Regions from separate parts of the Homo sapiens genome. Here regions 2, 3, 4, 5 and 6 are each reported to be linked to region 1. Evidence: microRNA targets listed by miRTarBase, many of them from high-throughput screens and not tested one by one. Region 1 holds a microRNA gene; each other region holds the end of a gene's coding sequence.

What was found. The annotated mature microRNA hsa-miR-4316 reads GGUGAGGCUAGCUGGUG and lies in region 1 at 1,276-1,292, opposite strand. An mRNA with a match to its seed (bases 2 to 7 or 8) in the 3' UTR can be bound and repressed. Matches are read on the target gene's strand: a 7mer-m8 pairs with bases 2 to 8, a 7mer-A1 pairs with bases 2 to 7 and ends in A, and an 8mer does both.
Region 2: miRTarBase lists MRPL44 as a target of hsa-miR-4316. Seed matches in the 3' UTR shown: 7mer-A1 at 1,080-1,086.
Region 3: miRTarBase lists HSDL1 as a target of hsa-miR-4316. Seed matches in the 3' UTR shown: 7mer-A1 at 2,553-2,559.
Region 4: miRTarBase lists SCYL3 as a target of hsa-miR-4316. Seed matches in the 3' UTR shown: 7mer-A1 at 3,206-3,212.
Region 5: miRTarBase lists GARIN3 as a target of hsa-miR-4316. Seed matches in the 3' UTR shown: 7mer-A1 at 3,414-3,420.
Region 6: miRTarBase lists SEC24A as a target of hsa-miR-4316. Seed matches in the 3' UTR shown: 7mer-A1 at 702-708 and 7mer-m8 at 2,109-2,115.

Annotation. Positions count from the first base shown.
Region 1 is chr17:77,395,753-77,399,842 of GRCh38, forward strand. MIR4316 (microRNA 4316) reads right to left here and starts at 1,302; the gene lies at 1,232-1,302. All of the region lies in intron 2 of SEPTIN9 (septin 9), which reads left to right. RefSeq lists an enhancer at 2,175-2,893.
Region 2 is chr2:223,966,241-223,970,330 of GRCh38, forward strand. MRPL44 (mitochondrial ribosomal protein L44) reads left to right here. Exons shown (of 4, transcript NM_022915.5): 4 at 623-1,474. The coding sequence ends at 794. Among named protein-coding and RNA genes, the nearest start is that of MRPL44, 11 kb to the left of the region's middle.
Region 3 is chr16:84,120,940-84,125,029 of GRCh38, forward strand. It overlaps HSDL1 (hydroxysteroid dehydrogenase like 1), which reads right to left. Exons shown (of 6, transcript NM_031463.5): 6 at 1,202-3,789. The coding sequence ends at 3,691. Among named protein-coding and RNA genes, the nearest start is that of MBTPS1-DT, 5.9 kb to the left of the region's middle.
Region 4 is chr1:169,850,300-169,854,389 of GRCh38, reverse strand. SCYL3 (SCY1 like pseudokinase 3) reads left to right here. Exons shown (of 13, transcript NM_020423.7): 12 at 1-120; 13 at 618-4,090. The coding sequence ends at 677. It overlaps FIRRM (FIGNL1 interacting regulator of recombination and mitosis), which reads right to left. Exons shown (of 25, transcript NM_001320047.2): 23 at 4,045-4,090; 24 at 2,454-2,573; 25 at 310-1,600. The coding sequence ends at 1,403. Among named protein-coding and RNA genes, the nearest start is that of SCYL3, 42 kb to the left of the region's middle.
Region 5 is chr5:157,158,868-157,162,957 of GRCh38, forward strand. It overlaps GARIN3 (golgi associated RAB2 interactor family member 3), which reads right to left. Exons shown (of 2, transcript NM_130899.3): 2 at 2,979-4,090. The coding sequence ends at 3,580. Among named protein-coding and RNA genes, the nearest start is that of GARIN3, 5.4 kb to the right of the region's middle.
Region 6 is chr5:134,724,777-134,728,866 of GRCh38, forward strand. It overlaps SEC24A (SEC24 homolog A, COPII component), which reads left to right. Exons shown (of 23, transcript NM_021982.3): 23 at 204-3,133. The coding sequence ends at 318. Among named protein-coding and RNA genes, the nearest start is that of CAMLG, 12 kb to the right of the region's middle. RefSeq lists a silencer at 3,974-4,090.

The DNA of each region.
Region 1 (4,090 bases):
TGTGTCCTGCTATTTTTACTTAATATTCTCGGCATTTCTCATCTTCAAAAATGTGATTTTAATGATGGTGCAGGCCTTTGACATATGGGTTTAGAAAATCTGCGGAAACCCGGACTGTTTCCAGGTTTTGTCAGTTTAATGCTGATGCAAATGTCCTCGTACGTAAATCTTTCTGTACTTCTGATTATTTCCTTGGGATAAATTCCCAGAAGTGGGCCAAAGCACATGAACGGTCTTCAGGCTTTTGGAGCAAGTTGAGATCGGTGGGGATTGGAGAAGGGACCCAGGGAGGCTTTTGGGAGCTTGCGAGATTGGAGTCTGGCTTTAGGGGACTTGAATTCACAGATGAAGGAGATGGCTGGCAAAGGTGGGAACCTCCTGCTCTATGGGTGGGGGGGTGACACTGCTTTACCTTCCAGTGACAGCATGGGGATCCTCCCAACATGACCTGGCTCCGCATCTTTCTGACACTGTGCACGGTCCACAGTTGTGATGCTCAGCTGGGAGCCTCTTCTGTGTCCTTCAGTTGCATTAACTCCTTGCAGACAGAGGAGGAAGCTGTCCGGTGCTCCTCCCTGCTGCGTGGGTCCTTTGAATCTGCCCAGTTGGGCCTGTGGATCTGTGCAGTCACGTACGGGGTTCTAAAATCTGCAAAATGACAAGCTCACGAACACTCTCGCTTCTGTGGGTGAATGTGGATACCCCTTGGCTGCGTCTCCCTCCACAGGGAAGATGGAGACGTGTAAAGTGACAAGGACCTGCTACCCCTGGGCAGGTTATGCCGGTTCCACTGTGAGGATGGTGGCAGGGGGCTTCCCAGGAGGCCTGCACATTGGGAAGAGAGGGGCGACCGTGTGTGACTGCAGGACCCAGGGCGCAGTCTTAGGACTCTGATGGGGGAGGAGATGCTGGGGAGCCCTGTTCTGCCAGCCTGGTGACAGACATCTCCTAATGTTTCCCGGCTGGGTACAACTCACAATGTCCTCCGTGGGGAGGCAATTGCCCATGAGGCATCCCTGGCAGGGATGATCTTGTTTCATTGCCACATATCCCAGCAATGAAACAAGAATCTAGAGTGATGTGATTCCTCCGATGACTTCTCCAACCATCTGGGGTTTTTGTGCGACTCCAAGAAGGGGGAAGGAGGCAGCTCTCGCTCCTCTGGGCTCCTGATGTGGCAGCTCTGGAATGGCCACGTGTCCGTTGGCCCACAGTGGGCCATTTGTCGAATGTGGTTGTGGTGGGATTGGGGCTGGGCTGGAGAGTGGGTGACCACACCAGCTAGCCTCACCCTGGGCCACTGTGCAGCCAGGGGTTTCATCTTCCCAGGGGTCTCGTTGTGAGTGTCCTGGGGCTGCTGGAACAAATTACTGGAAACCAAGTGGCCCAACAAAGATTGATTCGCTCATGGTTCTGGAGGCCACAAGTTTGACATCAAGGTATTGGCAGGACCACACTCCCTCCGACAGCTCGAGGGGAGGACCCTTCCTTGCCTCCTCCAGCTTGCGTTGGCCCAGGCGCTCCTTGGCTCTGGCAGCATCTGCAGTCTCTGCTCTCATCACGTAGCCCTCCCCACCGTGTCTCTTTGTGTCCCAAGTCCCCTTCTGCCTTTCTCCTATAAGGACACCGAGCACTGGATTTAGAGCCCATCCCAAATCCAGGATAGTCTCATCCCGGGATCCCTAATCACATCTGCAAAGACCCTTTTTCCAAATAAGGTCACATTCGTGGGTTCTTGGGGTTAGGTATTAGACATGTCTTTTTGGGGGTCACTAGTCAACCCTCTACAGAACCTCAGACGAAAGTGAATCTTCACAGGCTGAAATGGGGGTGAAGGTCTAGTGCGTCCCTCCTCCTTGGGAGCTCCCTCAGGGCTTGTGCCTATCCTGTGATCCTGTGATCCAGCCTTTTTTTTGAGATGAAGTCTTGCTTTGTCGCCCAGGCTGGAGTACTGTGGCACGATCTGGGCTCACTGCAACCTCTGCCTCCCGAATTTAAGTGATTCTTCTGCCTCAGCCTTCCAAGTAGCTGGGATTACAGGCGCCCACCCCCATGCCTAGCTAATTTTTTGTGTTTTTAGTAGAGACAGGGTTTTACCATGTTGGCCAGGCTGGTTTCGAACTCCTGACCTCAGGTGATCCGCCTGCCTTGGGCCTGCCTTGGCCTCCCAAAGTGCTGGGATTACAGGCATGAGCCACCACGCCTGGCATTTAGTAGGTTTTGGTTGTTTTTTTTTTTTGAGACAGAGTCTCACTCTGTCATCCAGGCTGGAGTGTAGTGGTGTGATCATGGCTCACTGCAGCCTTGATCTCCTGGCCTCAAGTGATCCTCTCACCTCAGCCTCTCGAGTAGCTGGGATTACAGGCATATGCCACCACCCCTGGCCAATTTTTGTATTGTTTAGTGGAGTCGGGGCTTTGCCATGTTGCCCAGGTTTGTCTTGAACTCCTGGGCTCAAGCGATCTGTCCACCTTGGCTTCCCAAAGTGTTGGGGTTACAGGCGTGAGCCACCACGCCTGGCTTAGTAGGTTTTCTAGAAGCGCCTGAGGCCTGGTGAAGGCATGGTGTCATGGAGTAGAGAACATTCAACTCTGTTCCCGGGGAGCCGGAACACACCCCTCGTAGCCAATCTCAACAGTCATGACGTGGCCAGGATGACATGGGGAGGGGGTGGTGTGGACTGTGTGGGAGGCCAGCTCCCCGGGAAGGGGGCTGGAGTGGGCTTGGCTTTGAGGAGGATTCCCAAGAGGAGGAGGAGGCGGTGGCATGCTCGTTTGGGGGGATGGCGTGAGCCAGGGTGGGCACCTCTTCATTTAGGTGTCACCTTCTTGACATTCCAGCCGGGACATGGTTTCCTTGGGGAAGATGGACACCCCCAGAGTGGGGCATCTCCTGGGGAAGATGGACACCTCCGGAATGGGGCGCCTCCTGTTCTCACTGTTCTTCTAGCACACAGTTGTATTCTCTTGCAGTTCTGGAGGCTGTGAGATCTCCTGGCTGTTATCTAGAACAAACTCGCCTTTGAGCAGCGCCGTCCTGATGGTGGGGTGGCCCCTGCGGGTGGAACAGCCCCTGCTGTCTCAGAGCTTACTGAGAGCTAGTGGGCATGGGAGTGGTGCTGGACCGAAACACCCAGAGGGATCATAGAGCCAGGCAGTAAGCACAGAGGCCAGCTAGTGGGGAGGGAGGGACCCATCCATGAAAAGACACCAAGCATTGAAAGAGAGGAGAGGATGGTTGGGGACCGGCACACATGTGCATTTTGCGCAGATGGCCAAGGTGGTGAGGCGCCAGCCACGCAGACAACTGGAGGAAGGAGGAGTGCCCTAGGGGAGGGGCCAGCTCCGGTTCTAGAATGATCCGCTTGTGCACGTGGGCCTGGCTGGAATAAATCATTGCATCCGCACCGTAGACTCAATCGTAAGCTCACACCAGGGCAGCCTCTGCTTTGGTGCAGTGTCTTCGATCATGAGTTGGCCATGGTGGGGGTGACTCCAAGGGGACTCCCAAGGAGGGGGTTCACCGGATCTCCCAGGGAAGGTCATTTGTTTTCTTGGGTTGGACCTGGGACAAGGCCTTCTCCTGTCTAGTTTCTGTTCTCCAACTTGACCGCACGGAAGGATGCTGAGGACACCTGGAAGCCGGCCCCTGCTCTACAGCACCCATAGGACAGAGGCACACCATGTGGGGACAGTTTGGACAGTGCTCAGGAGGCAGGGAGCAGATCAGAGGACCGCGGGAGGCCCTGGGAACCGCACGAGGACCCAGGCATTGAGCTCTGCACTTTCTGGCATCAGCCCGATGTACAGTCTGGCTCTGTGTCTACCCCGTACTTCACTTTCCCCATCTGTACGGGGGCGGTAATAATATTCTTTACAGCCCAGGTTTAAGCGGGTGTAGATGTGATGAGCTTGGTAAGCCCATCTCATTACATTCAGTTCTGGGCATTGAACCCTGGACTTTCTGGCTGGTAGAAGTGGACATTCAACCTTTCCTTGGGGCCCTGGGGCTTCTGCAGAATCAGAACACAGCCAGCAGTTTGCATGCAGGGTGCAGAGGGACAGAGGGACACCATGTCGGGAGCCCACAC
Region 2 (4,090 bases), not on the chromosome of region 1:
AAAAAAAAAAAAGTGTGAGCCATCATGCCCAGCCTAAAGTTCTTAATTTGAAATATAGAGCTGGTTTCTGGTTTCTTATTTGTGTTAAAGTTTAAATGACAGACTCAAAAGGCATAATTTTTTCAACAGAATCTTTTCCCAAGTTATATCACACATTAAAAATAAAAATAGTCATAATTCCTGATAATATTTTTACTAGTTTCAGGTTTTTGTAAGGAGATATTTATTTTTCCCAAGTTATATCACACATTAAAAATAAAAATAGTCATAATTCCTGATAATATTTTTACTAGTTTCAGGTTTTTGTAGGGAGATATTTATTTACATATTCTTCCAATTCTCTCATCAACAATTGAAAACCTAGATACGACTTGCTTTTTTGACTTGACAGAGTTGTATATATTTCTAAGGAAACGTAAGTGTATCTTTGTCTAATTACCATATGTAATGAACTTGCAACAAATCTAGTTAAAATCCAAAAGATGATCTATCAGAGCTATTGTGTTACTTCTAATGGGTATTATTGAAATAGATGTAGAAGGCATAATTGCTTTATAACTGCTTTGTGTACTGTCTTACAATATTCCATGTAATTTAAGACTACTGTTTGTTCTCTTTCTAGTGATAAAAAGTTGATTGCAGAAGGACCTGGGGAAACAGTATTGGTTGCAGAAGAAGAGGCTGCTCGAGTGGCCCTTAGAAAACTTTATGGATTCACAGAAAATAGACGGCCGTGGAACTATTCCAAGCCCAAAGAAACCTTGAGAGCAGAAAAGAGCATCACTGCCAGCTAGCCGCCATGGATGCAGCAGCCTGAAACTTGAGAGCGAAAGTGAGATAAATGTCAAAGGTGTTTCAAGCCAGACATTTTCACAATTGTGAAGAAATAGATGTTTTGTTTCTGTTTTTTACTGTGTTCCCAAAATTAAATAAGTGTTAACCAAGTCACAGTGTTTTTGGTTTTGTTTTTCTGAAATCTTGGTTTGATCAAATCTTTTTTTTTTTCTCTTGAGATGGAGTCTTACTCTGTCGCCCAGGCTGGACTGCAGTGGTGCGATCTCGGCTCACTGCAACCTCCACCTCACAGGTTCAAGCGATTCTCGTGGCTCAGCCTCCCTAGTAGCTGGGATTACAGGCACACACCACCATACCTGGCTAATTTTTGTATTTTTGGTAGACATGGGGTTTCACCAAGTTGGCTAGGCTAGTCTTGAACTCCTGACCTCAGGTGATCCACCCGCCTTGGCCTCCCAAAGTGCTGGGATTACAGGTGTGAGCCACTATACCCGACCAGATCAAATCTTTTTTTGACATTTTTGCAAAAAAATTTTCCTAATGTTCTTGATTTAATTGTATAGAATTTGTATAATTAGGTGTATTTTATTTGCGTCTAGCTTTGAGGTATCATAATTTATGTATCTTATGTGAATTTTTTGCTGTAATACCAATAAAGTTTTTTTTCTCCACATGTTAACATTGCATTTTAATTTGATATACCCAGTAATGGCAGGAGGTTGATGAACTTCGCTTCTGTAATACAATTTTAACTAAAATAGTAATGTTAAAACTCTTTGGGAAATGCATAGTACAGATTATAAGTAGGCAGCTATTTACATGATCCCTAAATTCTAAGTTTAAAATTATGTATACTTCTAGTATGTTTCTTATTCAATTTCTATTATAAATAGCAGGAAAAGGCAAATTTATGCTTTTCAGAAATTGCCTTTTCTAAGAAGTTGAAACTCAAAAACAGCTTAAAATGTTAATGGTGAAGGGAAAATAAAGCCAGTATTAGTTCAATTTAGTATTCTAGTCATAATAATAGTATGTACCAAGCAGTGTTGTAAGTATTGGAACACATTTAATTCAGTAGAGAGGTTTTGGTTTTCTAATCCTTTGTGGTCAGTTCAATAATCCCCTAACTGCAAATTCCTTTTGATTTATCATTTGTTAAAAACTTTGGCAACAGTAATTTTTAGTTTGAGTCTTCCATTAGTCACTCCCAGGGGTTAACAAGAATAGCAGGACCTACGAGTTGAGAATAGAAAAGAGGTAAAATGTTAAAACCAACAGTACATTTGCCATGAATTTATTTATTTATTAGACAGAGTCTCGCTCTGTTGCCCAAGCTGGAGTGCAGTGGCGCGATCTCAGCTCACTGCAACTTTCGCCTCCTGAGTTCAAGCGATTCTCCTGCCTCAGCCTTCCGAGTAGCTGGGACTATAGGTGCGTGCTACCACACCCAGCTAATTTTTTTTGTATTTTAGTAGAGACGGGGTTTCACCATGTTGGCCAGGGCGGTCTCAATCTCCTGACCTCGTGATCCATCCACCTCGGCCTCCCAAAGTGCTGGGATTACAGGCGTGAGCCACTGTGCCCGGCCTGACATTTTTTTATAAAGAAAGATGAAGGAACTTTGAAATGCCTTTCCTGAGCCTGGCTAGGAAAGTGGAACTTGAGTTATCTTACAGGGTTTATAGCTCCCAAAGGTAAAGCAGAGACTTTTTGGAGGGGAAAATTTGAAAAATTAACTAGTTGACTGAATTGGCAGGTTAAAAGTGAGTTAAAGTTGACCCTCGAACAACGTGGGTTCGAATTGTGCAGATCAGTATATATATGCAGATTTTCTTCTGCTTCTGCCAACGTGAGACAGCAAGACCATCCCCCTTTTCCTCCTCCTCTTTAGCCTACTCAGCGTGAAGACAAGGATGAAGACCTTTTTGATCATCCGTGTCCACTTAATGAATAGTAAATATATTTTCTTTGATTTCTTTAATATTTTTAGCTTTGTTGTAAGAATAAGGTTTATAATCTATATAATAAAATATGTGTTAATTGATTATTTATTAATATATCATCAGTAAGGCTTCCAGTCAGCCATAGGTTATTAGGAGTTAAGTTTTTGGGAAGTTTAAAGTTAATATACAGATTTACTGCTACATGAGGGGTCAACATCCCTAATCCCTGCATTGTTCAAGGGTCAACTATATTTTACCTTTTTTTCAGAGTTAACTTCAACTCCTAGTAATGGAACACAAGGATAGAGGACCAAAACCAGTGGTAAAATGCCATTTATATGTGTTACTCACAAGTAAACATGATTTGATAAGCATCTCATTGGCACTGTAGGAGAAAAGAGATTATATGACAAACTTTTCTGGAAAGCAAAAGACATGTCTTCTGACCACTTATCCAGCATCTGTGAGATGGCAGAATCTAGCTGTGGTATGATTCTAATTTTTTTTAAGGTAAACATTAAGAAAGTCTAGGGAATTCATTTGCAAACCCAGTAATCCTTTTCTTCCCCCTCCCCGCCCCCCCCCCCCCCCCGCTAAATAGTGCTGATTGTGCGTTCCCAAATTTCTCCTGCTCAGGGGAGTTTGCAGGACCTTACCCTGCAAGCTTAGAGGGGAACTATCCTTTTAGGTTTTCAAACTTTTAAACTTTGAATGCTTCCAAATTTACATGTGGGACAAGTCTGGCTCTAGTTCATAAAACTACTTTGCAAGTAGAGATCCATATGCCTTATGTAGAATGTAATTTCAACATATTTCTAAGTAAAGCCTTCTTTGAACTTAAATTGTTGTACTTTTTAAAAGCACCCTCTAAAATAGGGTAGAAATGTAGAAAATTTAGAAAAATTGACATACATTTTCAATTGCATATCAAATATAGCTTGAAATTTGGAACCAGTCTCTGAGTAGCTATTTGTCCTATGAGCCTAACTGCATAAGTATGATATGTGGGTAGAAGGAACATGTGGGTACAAGAATGTCATCAAATGGTGCATGTGACCAAGAGCATTCAGTGACCATGTGAAGGACTAGCTCTTTGACTAATGCCTCGTCCATGTTGAGAAGACAGTCATAAGACTGGAAGCACTGACATTTGAATTTAGGTTCACACCAGAGGAAGACATTAGTCATTTACTTTGAAATTCTGACTTTTTCCACCTTTTCCCACTCTCCAGTTCCCTGTGCCCAAAGTATAATTGTACCAAAAAAATCCTCTAGCCAAAAATGTAACATTAATGTCTACAGACTTAATTACATAACCCCTATTCTTTTAAATTCATACTCTTTATTATATG
Region 3 (4,090 bases), not on the chromosome of region 1:
TTTTCGGACCTCGATTGATCATAGGTAACTGAAACCTCAGAAAACAAAACTGTGGATAAGCGGAAACTACTGTCCACAAAGCATGATGACACAAGTCCTGCCCCACTGTGTGTTCCCATCCAACTCACTGATGGAGGTCACCCCCCTAAGTATTTCCACAACCACCTGAGCAAACACTTACTGAAGAAGGGTGTCAACGTCACGCCACGGGAAGGCCATGAGCCTGCCCACCCCCTCCCCCGGGAGCACCTGTCTCCATGCCTGCAGCACCATCATCCCGCCCTCAACAGTGGCGCTGTGCGGGGCTGGCCAGAGCACATCGCCCTCGCAGGGGGGCTTGCTGTGGAAGTGGAAGTTCTATTTGTGCACGTTCCAGAGTGGGTTCTAGAGCTGCCTCCCTTCCCTTTCAGTCTCACCATAGGAATTACACAGAATATTTTTTTTTTTTTCTTTTGTGACAAAGTTTTGCTCTGTCTCCCAGGCTGGAGTGTCGTGGTGCGATCTCAGCTCACTGCAACTTCCGCCTCCCGGGTTCAAGTGATTTTCCTGCCTCAGCCTCCTGAGCAACGGGCATTACAGGGGCGCGCCACCACGCCCGGCTAATTTTAGTATTTTTAGTAGAGACGGGGTTTCACTACGTTGGTCAGGCTGGTCTCAAACTCCTGACCTCATGATCCGCCCGCCTCGGCTTCACAAAGTGCTGGTATTACAGGCGTGAGCCACTGCACGCGGCCAGGAATAACAGAGAATATTTCTACTGAATTCACGACTGTCCTGTGCTTGGCTTTATACTCATTAAACATATATGAATTTTTAAAAAGATAAATAACACATAAGCCAATACTGAGACTGAGACATAAATTGACTGGAATAGGTTTTGAGGACATAACCATCTAACCCTCTGGTTCCCAAATGTGATTAGATTTTAAGTAATTGAGGATAGGAAAACACAGGAAAGTCTCCTAGGAGCTGTCTCTATCTGCTCTCTTCCCTTTTTTTCTTCTTCCCACTCTTTCTTGAATCCATTACAATTCTAGCCTGAAGACTGAAATGGCTCATGGAAAAAAATCACCAATGATCTCCATCCACACAGCCAAATTCCATGCTCAAATCAATCCTCACCTTACTCAACCTACCAAGAGAAAGAGATCCAGAAGTCAACCCAGTAGCTTCCAAAGACTAGGCACATAGTTATAAACAATTTTGTTACTGACGTGTCAGCTTTTAATCAGTTATGACCACTGTTGTTCATGTTAATTTCTTGCAATCACTCCTAAGAAAAAAAAATTCTCTCATTCCAAATTACAAACAACCAAATTACAAACATCTGGAACAAAACTCTTCCAAAGGAAACAAACAACTACTTTTATTGTTAAACTTTCAATTCACAGATTAACTTTCAAAGGTTCATATTTCCCACGTTCTTTTTTTTTTTTTGAGACAGGGTCTCGCTCTGTCTCAAGGCTGGAGTGCAGTGGCACGATCTTGGCTCACTTCAACCTCTGCATCCTGGGCTCAAAAAATTCTCCTGCCTCAGCCTCCCAAGTAGCTGGGACTACAGGCATGCACCACCCTGCCTGGCTAATTTTTGTATTTTTTGTAGAGACAGGATGTGTTCCCCAGGCTGGTCTCGACCTCCTGGGATCAAGCGATCCACCTGCCCTGGCCTTCCAAACTGCTGGGATTACAGGTGTGAGCCACCGCACTCGGCCCCTATTTCCCACATTCTTAATGACACCCCATCCACAGTGGTCCAATCAACTTTCAAATTAGCTCTGGGGAAAAAAATACATTTAATGAAAGCTAGAAAACCTAGAGAAGGTCTTGCTCTTCATCTTTCACTGCAGCTATGGACAGCTCGGCACCACATTTGCACCAATCAGCATGTTTGCCCATGTCCTGCCAAGGAGAGAAGTTTACATCATCACTGACAAGGTGTGTTCACCTATTCTCATCACGTAACACTGATGGATTCCATACCTAATTTATCAATCTAAGACATTACTGGACCACGTAACCTTACATATAACTACCTGACCATATTTTCACATGAAGTTGCTGCTGCTTATTATACATCAAAGTTCACGTCAATGTGGCATGAAGTCAAGAGGATTCCAAGCAAACTCCATCAAAACCTTGGGGCTCACAGCATCTCCCAGTGTGTAGATTTTCACATCTAAGTTCTGAAGACATGATCTAAGCGTGGAAGAGCTTCTGAAGTTGACCACTGATCTTCTGAGTGCAAGTCACATCTGGAAATCCTGTAGGCAATGTCATGGGCAAAATTGTGTTCATAAAACTGTGCTTAGGTCTGCTTATGATAGATTATCACGTCACGAAAAAAATGCCACAGAAGTCCAGACTTTTAACCAATCTACTAGCTTCTGCATCAGTATCACAATGCCGAGCTCTGAATTTTAAATGTGCACATATTGTCATATTCATATAGTGACTTAGAGTTTTCAAAGCACTAGGTACATGGTCCTCAAAAATGGTTGGCTTTATATGACCCAAACTAAGGACATTTCACAGGTTTCAATGTTAACGCGTATTGTGAGGGTTTGTGCATAATTATCTTCACACCAGTAAAGGTATTCACTACAATACATAAATTCATTACACAAACCAAGAATAAGCTTCTAACTTATATTGACAGATATGTCACACACGTAATTTGTCCATATTTTACTATTCCATAAATACTTACTATTTCTATCAATAATGCTACTGGAATGGAATAATATTACATAGAAAAACGTAGGAAAACCAGATATAACAAGCTCTAAAGGGCTAAATTTCAGTTATAAAATGGGTCAGAGGCTGAGAAATCACTATTTATCCACAAGAATTGCCTTATAAATCAAAAGATGACTGCAGGTTTCTCTTACATATCCAAATCTAGGAATAAGTTCATTCCATAGCAGATTTGAAAAAACACAAATATAATGTAGGAAGTAATATCATTCATGGCAAACCAACAGCATGAAATTTGGTAGGCTTATTTAGGATGAAAAGGAATAATCTAGATTGTTTTAATACCCTATAAGAGTCCATGTTAAGTCACCCTGACAAAAAATCTTTTTAAAAATATGGTAACCATAAATAAAGTTGCTCAAAGGCACCACACACACGCACACACACGGTTCTCTAATGAAATACCAGTTGAAGTGCAGCATTTTCATTACAGATAGTCAAACAGCTAGAGCTATACAATACACACAGATTTTTCCTAATAGTACCAGCAATCTTAGTTACAAAATAATACTTTTCAGTAGTCTTTCTTGATGCACATTTAAAAACCAGCACAACTCCTCTAGTGAAATGGTCAATTTCCCTTAAAAAACAACATCTGAAATTATAAGACCTGACAAATCATATTATATTTCAATATTAGACTGCTGTGGCTCTAGAACAACAGAAAAGCGTAACTTTCAAACAGCTTAGGGAAAAAGCACTGAAATGTAGATGTCGTCAATCAGCCTCAGGCATTATTGATCCTGTGCCATCCACACACCCTTAAGGTTTTTCACAGCACTCTGACGGTATTATGTGTGTTTTGCAAATGACGAATCAACAGTATGCTGAATAATCAGCAATGAAACACAGGAGATAAATTAAATGTGTTTTTCCAAATGTCAGAATATCGAGGTTCCCAGGAGTTGGCAAAACTTCTCAAGTGGCCATCCAGACTCAGGCTGTGCAGGATAAGGCTTCCTTACGTAGTGAACGGTTGAGAATATTTGCTCCCCACACCCAGAGCCATTCAGGCATATACTGTGCAAAAAGAAACTAAAAATGAAAGAGAAAAAGGTTGTAAGGTTAGAACCCAAAATCAACACTGAAGGAACAAGTACACAGACCAGCACATGAAACCCACCAATCACAACAAATACCCACCAATCAATCACAACAAATACCCACCAATCACAACAAATACCCACCAATCAATCACAACAAATACCCACCAATCACAACAAATACCCACCAATCACAACAAATACCCACCAATCAATCATAACAAATACCCACCAATCACAATACACACCAATCAAACAAATACCCACCAATCACAATACCCACCAATCAAACA
Region 4 (4,090 bases), not on the chromosome of region 1:
AAGCCTTCTGCTGCTTTTCTTATATTACCTGAACTGAGGACAGAAATGGTCCCAAAAAAGGATGATGTCTCCCCAGTGATGCAGTTTTCCTCAAAATTTGCTGCAGCAGAAATTACTGAGGTGAGTACTTTTATGGAGTAAACTGTGCTACTAGCTTTAGGATTTCCCTCATAGGTCCTAGTTGCAGTATCCCATTTATAACAAGCAACATGCTATTTTCCTAGTCAAGTCAAGCACAAAATTAACAAAATCAGTTTCTATCATTGGTATCTATCTTTCCTTCCCCCAGAAAAATGTAGCAATGCTTAGTTTGTTTAATGAGCTATTGTAACCTTTTTATTTGAAAAAGAAAAAAAAGGGATTAAAATAAGGATTTGGTGTCATCCACACTGATTTTTACTGGATTTTATGGTTTTTGAAAAGCTATTTTCCAGTGCCATGGTTTTGTAATCCTACTTTTCAACTTTCTGTTAGAGCTCTAAGTTATTTTACTTAGTACGAGGTAGTGTTTCTGGCATCAAAAGATAAATTTTAAATTCCTGCTTTTTCAAATTTGCGTATGATTTTTGCATATGATTTGTTTCAGTGGGTTCTTGGTGTGCTTTATTTTGTTGCAGGGAGAGGCTGAAGGCTGGGAAGAAGAAGGGGAGCTGAACTGGGAAGATAATAACTGGTGACAATAGATGTGAGTTAAACTTTAGGAAAAAGGATTCCCTTTTTTTAAAAAAAATCAATACCTCAAAAGCAGGCTTTGGGACAAGAAAACCCCAAAGTGGCCTGCTTTTCCCATCCCAGGAGCTCATTATCCAGTCTGTGCCAACTGAAGTAGGAGACTGACTGTGAGTGCTGGCTAAAAGCCCTGGGTGGTGAGGCTCACAGTACTGGTTTCCAGGAGGAAGAGCCTTTGTGCATTTGACTGAGGCCAGTTTCTATGAAGAGCAAGTAGCTGAGGAGAGGTCGAATTTACTGCTTTTTCCAGGACAATTCTGGAAGTAAAGAAAATGTAATTCAAGCTGGTTAGCTTAATTTTGTGCCATTCTTTAACATAAGAGTAAGCTCTATTATGAAATACAACTTTAAAAAATTTTAGCTATAAATTATATAAATGATTTTAAATTGCTGAGGTTTCCTTAGGCAGCTTATTTATTTGTTTACAGTTAGACTATCTGAGTAAATGGTTCTTTGTGGACCTAGGCAGTTCCTGACTGTTCCACATGTAGTACATTGTACCAAAGTTCTTAATAAGAATATTCCCCACAATCCTGTTCTCTAAATGTCAAATAAAGATTATTTTCACTAGATTCAACTTTACAAAATTTGTTTTATATCTGTTAGAAAATGTACAGACATAAGTATTTTCAGTTGACAAAGCATCAAACCCAGTTCTGCCTAGTGATAAGTTTCACCCTAGAGTATGTATGTAACGTTTTAGCTTATCCATCCTTTCTTGGAGCGCCTCCATTTCCATTGAAAGCCAGGCTGGAGCAGGACCCTTTTGGAGTAGTGACTCAGTTGCTTCCAAAGCCCCTGCTATTGTATGCAGCGCTGACCTGTACTCTTCTTCCCAGGGGAACTCCTGACGAGCTCTTTTTGCATAAGGCTGGAAAAAAAACATAAGTAATATCACAATATCCATTCTAAATATAAAGAACCTTCCTTTTGGACTGGAGTAAAGCTTACATGCAAATTTTATTCTAGTCATTGGATCACAAGGGTAGGAGGATGCACCCCAAAACCCCTACACAGTCATCTAGAAAAATATGTAAAGGCATTTTGGTTTATCATAGCAATTCAGAGTGCTACTACCAGTGTCTTAGTTTGTATGTGGTATACAACAAGTATCCTGTCCCAAAGGGCTCCCAATGAGAAGTGCTGCATAGTCCAAGCTTACATGTCTTATAAACAAGTTCATAAATGTATTTTCTTTTTATGAGAGTTTGACTAAAACTTATCAGAATGTTGTTCTTCATGAATTACTACTATACTAATTACTATACTAATAGTGCTCAAAACAATATTTTGAATATCCTTATTGGTGTCAAATTCTGCCTTTTAATAAGTAGATGTGATCTTCAGTTACTGCCAAAAATTATTAGGAGACTCATTTGATTAATAAGGCAAGGAATCAAACTAAACATTTAGGAGTAAGTTTCTTTCATTTTCTTCTGTGGTTCAGTAAAGACTGCATTTATAGCATCACTGGTACAATATGTAACTTCCCTTAAAGGTTACTACCAATAATTCAAACATACTGAAAGAATATATTTGATATGGTGTAGTCCCACTTCTTAATTTTAAAAGCAACTACCATAAAACAGAATTTTACATGTCTAGATCTATTTGATTTGAAATTCAGCATAAGGCTGGAAACCACACTGGTTTGTTTCGTCAGTAAGTAAAAAGGGCAGAATTTGCCTTGTTAAAGTTTGGCCCCTATTGAAATCAGCCCATACCTGTAAAGATGACCTCTTTGCTTCTTCTACAGTCACATTAGCAAAGGGTTCCCAGAAAATACCTTTTTCCTGTTTCACACGTTCCACTTTGGCAGCTTCAGTTTCATCTACAAACCCAGTCTGCCAGGGACCATGAAAAACCAAGCAAATAGCAACATGTTAGCACTCTACTAGATATGAAATGGCCACATAATTTAAGTGCTGAGTGTTCAACCATACTAGGCAAATTCTGGAAGTCACATGGACTGATCTATAAATACTCTTAGTATAATCTGGATTAAATCACTCTACTGTGTTCTTCCTTACAAAATAGTTAGTTATAGAGTTGTCTTTGCAGGAAAAAATGATAGTCTGCTAACCTTTACTGTATAAGCTAAGAAACTGGCAACAGCAGTGTATACACATGTACTTAAAATCCAGCTTAGATGTAATATAAGTAGGCCAAGTGTGGTGGCTCATGCCTCTAATCCCAGGACTTTGGTGGGAGGAATGCTTGAGCCCAGGAGTTTGAGGTTATAGCGAGCTATGATCACACCACCACACTCCAATCTGGGCGACAGAGCGAGACTCTGTCTAAAAAATAAAGTTCAGTGAGTCAAGTGGGCCCATTTCACCTAAAAAAATATATATGTAATATATGTAAAATATATAACGTGCATCATTACATGTAATATATCAAATAATTCAGTTTCTCCTGGTAGTCTAAATTTGTGGTTTAACAGTTCCACTAGTATTTCAATTAACTATTATTTCCTCACACTAAGTTCCCAAGTATGCATAGACATAGGAACCTTGTGATTCAAAATTTTGGTTTTAATTGTAAAAACAGGTCTTGGCTGCAAAGAGAATAAAAAAGCCATGCCAAAAAAAAAAAAAAAAAAAAAAAAAAAAGGGCCCTGAGCTTACCCTGGCTTGGGAGGCTGCCCAAATAAAAAAAAAAAAAAAAAAAAAAAAAAGCCATGCCTAAATTATACCCAAAATATGGTAGTAAACATCCTCTCAGGCCTACCTAATTATGTGATCAAGTGTATTTAATTATGATTATTAATAGCTTAGGGATCCTCATTAGTCATCTCACTGCCTGGATAATCAGTGCTATTACACCCCAAACTACAGGCAGAGGAACTACAAGTGTCCTTTTTTGAGACAGTCTCACTCTGTCGCTCAGGCTGGAGTGCAGTGGCATGATCTTGGCTTACTGCAATCTCTACCTCCCCAGTTCAAGCAATTCTCCTGCCTCAGCCTCCCGAGTAGCTGGGACTGCAGGCGCGTACCACCATGCCCGGCTAATTTTTGTATTTTTAGTAGAAACAGGGTTTCCCCATGTTGGCCAGGCTGGTCTTGAACTCCTGACCTCATGATCCACCCACCTTGGCCTCCCAAAGTGCTGGGATTACAGGCATGAGCCGCCGCGCCTGGCCCCAAGTGTTTTACTTCTGTGGCCTCAATTGCTTAGTAAAAGTCGTCAGCACTGTGCTCAGCACTGTGAAAAGTTTAAGCTAAGAAGACACTCAGGTTGGTTACAGTTACATAATTTCGGAAAAAAAAAAATAGGACAAAGAATAAAACATGAGCCATGTAAAGAAAGTACCTTCTCCAGAAAGGATACAACTTTGTTCTTAGTTTCTTCAGAACTG
Region 5 (4,090 bases), not on the chromosome of region 1:
GTCTCGAACTCCTTACCTCAGGTGATCCGCCAGCCTCAGCCTCCGAAAGTGCTGGGATTACAGCCATGAGCCACAGCACCCAGCCATCACATGGACATTTCTAATGGGAACATGTCTTTCAAAACATCTCCTGTAATCTCATTTTATAGATCCTGCAGCAAAAGACAGGAATTACATAAGGACACATATTAACAACTACCTTCCCAAATATTTTTTTCTCACAGCAACTACAGTGACCTTTACAAAATACAAATCTGATCAAGTCACTCCTCAACTTAAAATGTTTCAGTGGCTTCTCATTACTAAGGACAGAAGTCAAAGTAGCATATGCGAACCTCAAAGCCTTGCACAGTCTGTCCCCTGCTGCTCCCTCTAGCATCTCGCCTTCCGTTCTTGCCCTGCCAGCCATGATGGCATTTGACATTTTGAGGCACCTTGCTTCTTCTCACCATAGACCAGTTTCCTCTGCTTCAAAGACTCCACCCTAACATGACAACTGCATGAGTGATCTTATACTGCTTTTGGCAAAATATCGCTTTGTCATCTTTGTTCTTATGTGTGTAATGCCAGACTTTAAGTTTGGAACATTGGTTAGTAATCGACCATCCACTGTCTCATTGCACTTGCAGCAGCAGAATTGTTACCATGGTGACAAATATTGCCGTTAAAAATATTGGCTTTTATCTGATAGGGGTATTGACTTGATGCCCCAATTGATAACTCCCTCTGAGGAAGAGGCCTGTTGCTTTGAAATACATAGGTATTTATGCATCTATCTCTTGATGAAGTATCAAGATAGAAAAGGAAATGCAGAGAAAGTGCATGGCACAGCACGCTGTGGTGGGCAAGTCCCCATCTCTACTTTACTTAAATTGCATTTGGGTGGATAAACTATATTCATGCTGAAGAAGCCCTCAGACAGGGGAGGGTGTATAAAACAAGACTAGAAGAAAGACAAAAGATAAAGCCATAGTCTACACAATTATGAGATTAAACCGTTTGTAGCTAGGATAATTCAGACTCTGGCATAGCTGTAAACCTGGAACTCCAGACCAAAGGCTTTGAAAGGAGTTTCCTTTTATCTCTCTCCTCTACCCCACCTGCCAACCTTTCACATTCCCGGGTGGCTTTCCCAAAGGCCCTCTCAGACTTTAGAGTATGTGCCTCTCTCTCTTTCTCTCTCCTTCTACCTGTACCCACTGTTTCAAGAGTCAACTCCCAGAACATCTTAATCTCAGCCTCTATGGTATTTATCAAAAATCACAAGATGAGATTTTCCAGCCACCCACTAGAGCAACTGAGAAGGGATTCCCCTGATACTGACAAGCCACCGCTCCTCCCAGAATACGTCGCTTCTCACCTCCTCCATCTTGGCTACACATATTTGGTGTTCAGAAAAGGTCCCTAAGTTTTGCCGGAAACCCAACTTCTGTCCTCCAAGGTACTGCTGCTGCAGAGAATGAGCAAAGACTTGCAAGGCTGGGCAGGTGCTCCCCTCCTGGACTTACATGGCTCCCAGAATCATTTTTCTCAAATCCAAATTTTATTATTTGGTGTTAATAATTTAATGTTTTCCATGGACTCATTTTACAGGTTTTTTAAAAACGGAAAGACAATTTTTTTTTACAGTAAAGGTTTTTAAAATTTATAATCCCATTTCTAATGTAGTGTGATTTTTTTATTCTGGGAATTAACTTGCACACGAACACATAATTTACATCATGTTAGTACACAGCATTTTGGACTATTTTACTTCTTAATATATTTAAACATTTTTCCGTGTTTCTGAATACTTTTTATGTCACTTAGAATTTTTATTTCATGCTTATTGAAAGATCTTTCAGACTTAGATATTCTGTCATAAATCTGTCATGTGTATGTGTAAAAAGGAAAACATTGGTGAAATAAATTGATTAGGGCATTTCTAAGGCAGTGATAGTGACATGCAATTGACACCTTGCTGACAGATTTAAAAACAATCCTGATTTCAGAGATATTAAAATAAAGATACAGTAACAACACCCCATGAATACAACCTCTTCTTTAAGAAATAGAATAATCACTATTCTGTTGAAACTCCTTGTGTGTGCCCCTCAGATCAGACATCTCTCCCTTTATCCTATAGATAGTCACTATCCTTAATTTTGTGATTATCATTTCCTTGTTTTTCTCTATACTTTTAGCAAATATATATCCCATTGTTGAATCTTATTTTTGAGCTGTTCTACAAATTGAACTATATCATATATATTTTTGTGACTTGCTTTTAGTATCCCACATTATGTAAGATTTATCCATGCCAGCCACACATGGTGGCTCATGCCTGTGATCCCAGCACTTTGGGAGGCCGAGGAGGACGGATTGCTTGAGGTCAAGAATTCGAGACCAGCCTGGCCAACATGGCAAAACCTTGTCTCTAGTAAAAATACAAAAATTTAGCTGGGCATGGTGGTGCATGCCTGTAATCCCAGCTACTCCGGAGGTTGAGGCATGAGAATTACTGGAGCCTGGGCAGCCAAGGTTGCAGTGAGCCAAGATTATCCCACTGCACTCCAGCCTGGGCAACAAACTGAGACTCTGTCTCAAAAAAATAAAAAATAAACATTTATCAATGCTAACATGTATAGCTGCTATTCATTTTCACTATTGTAGATTATGCACTGTAGTCCATTCCACAATTTATTAACTCTCCTGTTTGATGAACATTTGGGCAATTTCCAGGGTTTTGCTATTACAACTTGTTTTACTGTAAACATTCTCCTAGTTGTCTACTGGTAAGCATATGTGAGAATTTCTCCACTGTCTACACCTTGGAGGAAGACTTGTTAAGATTAGATCAAGAGTCAGCACACATTTTCTTAAAGGCCCAGATAATATTTTAGATTCTGTGGGCCATATGGTCTCCATTGCCACTACTCAGAGCTGTCATTTTTAGCGTGAAAGCAGCCATAGGCAATATGCAAAGGAAAGTCTGTGACTATGTTCCAATAAAACTTTATTTACAAATCCAGGCAGCTGGTAAGATTTGGACCTCAGAACATGATTTGCCAATTCCTGATCTAGAAGAATAGATTTCCTATTCTAATTGCCTACAAATACTGCTGTATTGCTCCTTCCTACCCTGAATATCCCCTGAGGGGATGTGAATCCTGTCTCTGCATAGGCTAAGAACTGGACTGAATGTCCATGTTCAGGGGCATTCAGGGAAAAGAGGAGAATGGGCGAGGGGACATGGTGGTGGCCATGCATCCCAGCTCTTAGTCTGTGGCTTTGACAGTCTCGGGGAAGCAAAAGGGATTGAGGCAAAGCTGAACACTCACGTTGGCTCTGCTGGCCGTGGGCGGGTGGTGGAGCTCTACTTGCCTGGAGGCTGGGGTCTCCAGCTGTAGCATAGCCACCATCACAGAAGCCACTGTGAGGTCACCACCAGGCTATGGGCAGAAAAATTCAAGCAGGAGATTGTATTTCTTTTGGAGTTGTACGATTTCCTTTATTATTTGAACTGCAGTAAAGAAAGCTGGGATGGGCTCCTCTAGGGATACTTCCAGATCCCTGGGCGGTTGTAGCCCTGGCTCCTCTTTAAATGGATTTGGTTTCAAAGACGATCATCTCCGTCTTCTCGGATGTCATAGTGCCACTGATCATCTCCAGCTCCTGGCCACCCTGGGCTTTCTCCACTTTGGCCTCTATGTTTTGCTTCTCCACCATCTTAGCCACGATATCTACCTCTCTGTCATGTGATGTGACCCTTGTTTTTGAACCAGGAGTGGCCCTGAGGCTCCTTAAAAAAGAGCTGATCTTACTGGCTTTCTTTTGTAAAGCTCCTGTGCTAGATGCAGATTGGTTCTTCCCCAGTTCCTGAGTTGTTCTCGACTCCTTTTTGGTGGAGCTGTGGGTGGAGCTCTTGCGAGAGGAGCCATGTCGCTTGCCCCTTACGTTGCTGTACCCTTTTTCTTTTTTGTCATCTCTCGTGTTTTTATGGCCAGATGCGGACCGGTGGGAAGACGCTTTCTGATTCTTGTCCCCCGCTCTCCTGCGGTGACTTTCACCTGCCTTGCGGTGATGAGAACTTTTCCTACTGGGATGTCTG
Region 6 (4,090 bases), not on the chromosome of region 1:
ACTATTTCTCTTAATTCCACCATAAGCTTTTCCCTTAAACAACTTGAAATTTACATAATCAACCAAGTATTCTCAGAGAAAGCCTCTAGAAGTAACTGTTTATATAGTAAATGTTATTAGGGTTATGAGGAAATCAAAAGCCTTCTGACAAGTCTATTTTACTGCTACATTTTATCTAAATTTTTTTGCCTTTTATTCCTAAGGGATGAGAGTCCAATGAAAGCAAACTTCCTTCAAAACATGATAGAAGACAGAACAGAATCTGCATTATCATATTATGAATTCCTGTTGCATATACAGCAACAAGTGAATAAATGAATGAATGAAGAAATTTGACTTATTTTTAAGGAATGTCACGATAGTGCAGAATACCTGGAAATGTGTAATACCTTCTTTTTCTATTATGTTTGTGGACTAATGTGATGATTGAGATGTTCTCACTGTGATTTCAACAACCTATAGCAAATAAAAGACCACAGCAGAGAATCAAACATGCAACTCTGAAATACTGTATTTTTCAAATCAGAATATAGCTACGTATGATTGGATACTTTTTTCTTGCCAATTATGTTTGAGTTGTTATGGATTAAAATAAGAATATTGCAGAGGCAAAGTACATTTTGTAAAATAAAGATTTCTGTGTTCTACATGTATATTTCTCATTTTTAATTTTTCTGAATCTTTGGCTGCTACATTTAAAACCTCACAAACCTAAGTGTTGCAGGGAAGTTACAAATTGATTGGTAGTGATGTTTTTAAAATAAAAACAATGGAAAGTAAATATAATGTAGGAAAACTAGAATTCATTCCCCACACGTGTCTTTTTTTTTTCTTTGTTAAGGGAAAGGATCATGTTGACTAAAACTAAACTAATTCTAGTATAGCTTGAGAAAAATATGAAGAAACACATTCAAGCTTTAAAATCTGTCAGTATTCTTTATGCTTGAAGAACAAAGTCACTTTGATTTGAAGTGAGAACTATCATTAGGTGGTTTTCTGATTTCCTGATGAAGAGTTGGACATACTGTCTTAATCTATAGTGAAAAGAATTTGAGCTGTCTTCATAAACACTGGGACTAGCAATGATAATAGGGAGATAAGAAACTTTAATTATCTTGATCCTTTAAGTGGATTTTATTTGGTGCATTTCTGCTCTGGGTATATAATAAAAGTGGGGGTTTTTGGTGAAATGAGTGAAGAAATGAAAGGTTTCTAAAGTGCTATCCAAATACATCAGTAACATTTTTCTAAGGAGTTTAATTGTTAAATTGGAAGTCATTCATAAGAAATATTTATGCTTGAATATGAAAATCTATGAAAGCATAAATGCTGCTGTTTGATTTGGTGGATATTAAGATTATACACATCCAACATATTAAAGTTATGAAAGAAACTTGACTTCTGAAAATCCTTAAGAGACTGCTTTCTTGATTCAGCTAGAGAAATATTATAGTCAAAACTATTGAGTGAATTTTGTTTACAAATAGGTAAATTATACATTTGTATATTTAAAGTGCTGTGACATAGTATCTTTAAGAGTTTGGCTCAGTTTTCACAGATTCATTTTGTCTTAAGAATTTCTTAAATATGTTCATGTATAATACTTGATCAAAATATTTTTGGGTTTTTTGTTTTGTTTTAATGGGTTAGAAAATGTTTACAATCTTGGTCTTATATGATCACCAATGGAATAGTAACTTCCAGGTTTATATCAATATGAGCTGACTTTAACTGAGTTGTTTGGGATAGGGAAGAAGCAGTCCCTCTACAGTATACAACTACTGCTTGCCAGCTGGATCAAAATAATCATGTTTTATGAAAATATCTCCCTTAAGCAGTGTTAAGGTTGGTTTGCAGTGTGTAAGTGGCACATTGAACTGGAAGTTTTCTTGAAAGCTGCTTCATCTATTAAGAAGCAATTTTCAAATTGTAGCGAATTATATTATCCCCTCTTTTAAAGAAACAGTCGTTATATGCTGATGTTTCTTAAAATAACTAAAATGTTCCTCTTAATGTGATTTTAAATGGAGTTATTTGTAGGTCCTTTCTTAGTAGTAAAGAATCTTCTAGAGGGAAACATTTGTGCTTTTAGGGATAATCTTCCTTGTGCCTCACTACATCCCTAAGTGGGTATGACTCTTGTTATTACCACATGCTTTTTTAGTATATTTCACAAATTTACTTTTAAATATTATTTTAGATACGGTGTAACATGTGCAATTCAGAATAATTTTATAACAGGTCATGAAAAACATAACTTTAGTTAGGATTCACAATATTTGTTCTCCACATAATGAGAGAATGAATGAGCCTTTGGAGATACTGATATAAGGCAATTATTTTTTGCAATGTTGAATGTGTTTTTTAGTTTGATTCTTTTTTTTTCCCCCAATAGGGCACTACCTGCCATATCATCTTGTATTACTTTTTGATGTAAAGCGACTAATATTTACACTATGCCATATTTTTTTTAATTATAGTTGTAAATTATGAAAGATCCTTGAATTTTCTACAGATCTACAACTACTAATGTAACAGACAAGGGCAATCTTGGTATTTAAATCTGAGCATGGCAGTTCTACCATAAAAAGTACTCTATTTTTCTAATTTCTAGGATTTTTAAAATAACATTTCTGTAAGTCTGACATACTAATAGTCACTCAAGCAGTACCATTTATTTTAGTTTGCATATATTTTCACTGTTTTTAATTTAATGTATTGAGTCTAATAGACTGTTTTGCAATAATTAGAATAAAGATTTATTTCTTCTAATCAAAGATGCATAACAGCTATTATCTAGGGGACCACCAAATGTGATTTCAAAATTTTGTTAACTATTACAAATGTAATCCTTATATAGAAATTTTAATTTTGTAAAGTAGTGTATAATATTGTAATATTAAATTCTTGTTCTTAAATTCAAATATGTATTGATCTTCAATGTGCTGTGTTAAATCTTGCTTCTCTGAAAAGTTGGAGACAAGATTTGTCTTCCTTTTTACAGTTTGTAATTTTCACTGTTTTATTCCTGTTAAAAAAAAAAAAAAGTCATTTGTAACCCATGCAGACCATTGTTTGATCTATGCTAACTTATCAACTTGGCTATTCAATAAAGTTAATTGAAAAGAGCTTATATATAGTGACTAGTTATTTAAAGTGATATGAGCCTGGTATGGTGGCCCACACCTGTAATCCCAGCAGTTTGGGAGGCCCAGGTGTAAGGATCACTTGAGGCCTGGAGTTGAAGACCTGTCTGGGCCAGGTGGCGAAAACTTGTCTCTACAAAATAGTTTTTAAAAGTAGGCTGGGCGTGGTGGCTCACGCCTGTAATCCTAGCACTTTGGGAGGCCAAGGCAGGTGGATCACCTGAGGTCAGGAGTTCGAGACCAGCCTGGCCAATATGGTGAAACCCCATTTCTACTAAAAGTACAAAAACTTAGCCAGGCATGGTGGCGCATGCCTGTAATCCCAGCTACTTGGGAGGCTGAGGCAGGAGAATCGCTTGAACCCTGGCCGAGGTTGCAGTGATCCCAGATCGTGCCATTGCACTCCAGCTTGGGGAACAAGAGCAAAACTCCATCTAAAAAAAAAAAAAAAAGTCCAGGTGTGGTGGCTCATGCCTGTAATCCCAAAACTTTGGGAGGCCGAGGCGGGCAGATCACCTGAGGTCAGGAGTTTGAGACCACCCTGGCCAATATGGTGAAACTCCGTTTCTACTAAAAATACAAAAATTAGCTGGGCATGGTGGCAGGTGCCTGTAATCCCAGCTACTTGGGAAGCTGAGGCATGAGATTTGCTTGAACTCGAGAGGCGGAGGTTGCAGGGAGCTGAGATCGCGCCACTGTATTCCGGCCTGGGCAACAGAGCGAGACTCCATCTCAAAAAAAAAAAAAGTGTAATCCCAGTAGAAAAAAGTGCTGTAATCCCAGCACTTTGGGAGGCCGAGATGGGAGGATCACAAGGTCAGGAGTTTGAGACCAGCCTGGCCGACATAGTGAAACCCCATCTCTACTAAAAATACAAAAAATTAGCTGGGCGTGGTGATGGGCACCTGTAATCCCAGCTACTTGGGAGGCTGAGGCAGGAGAAT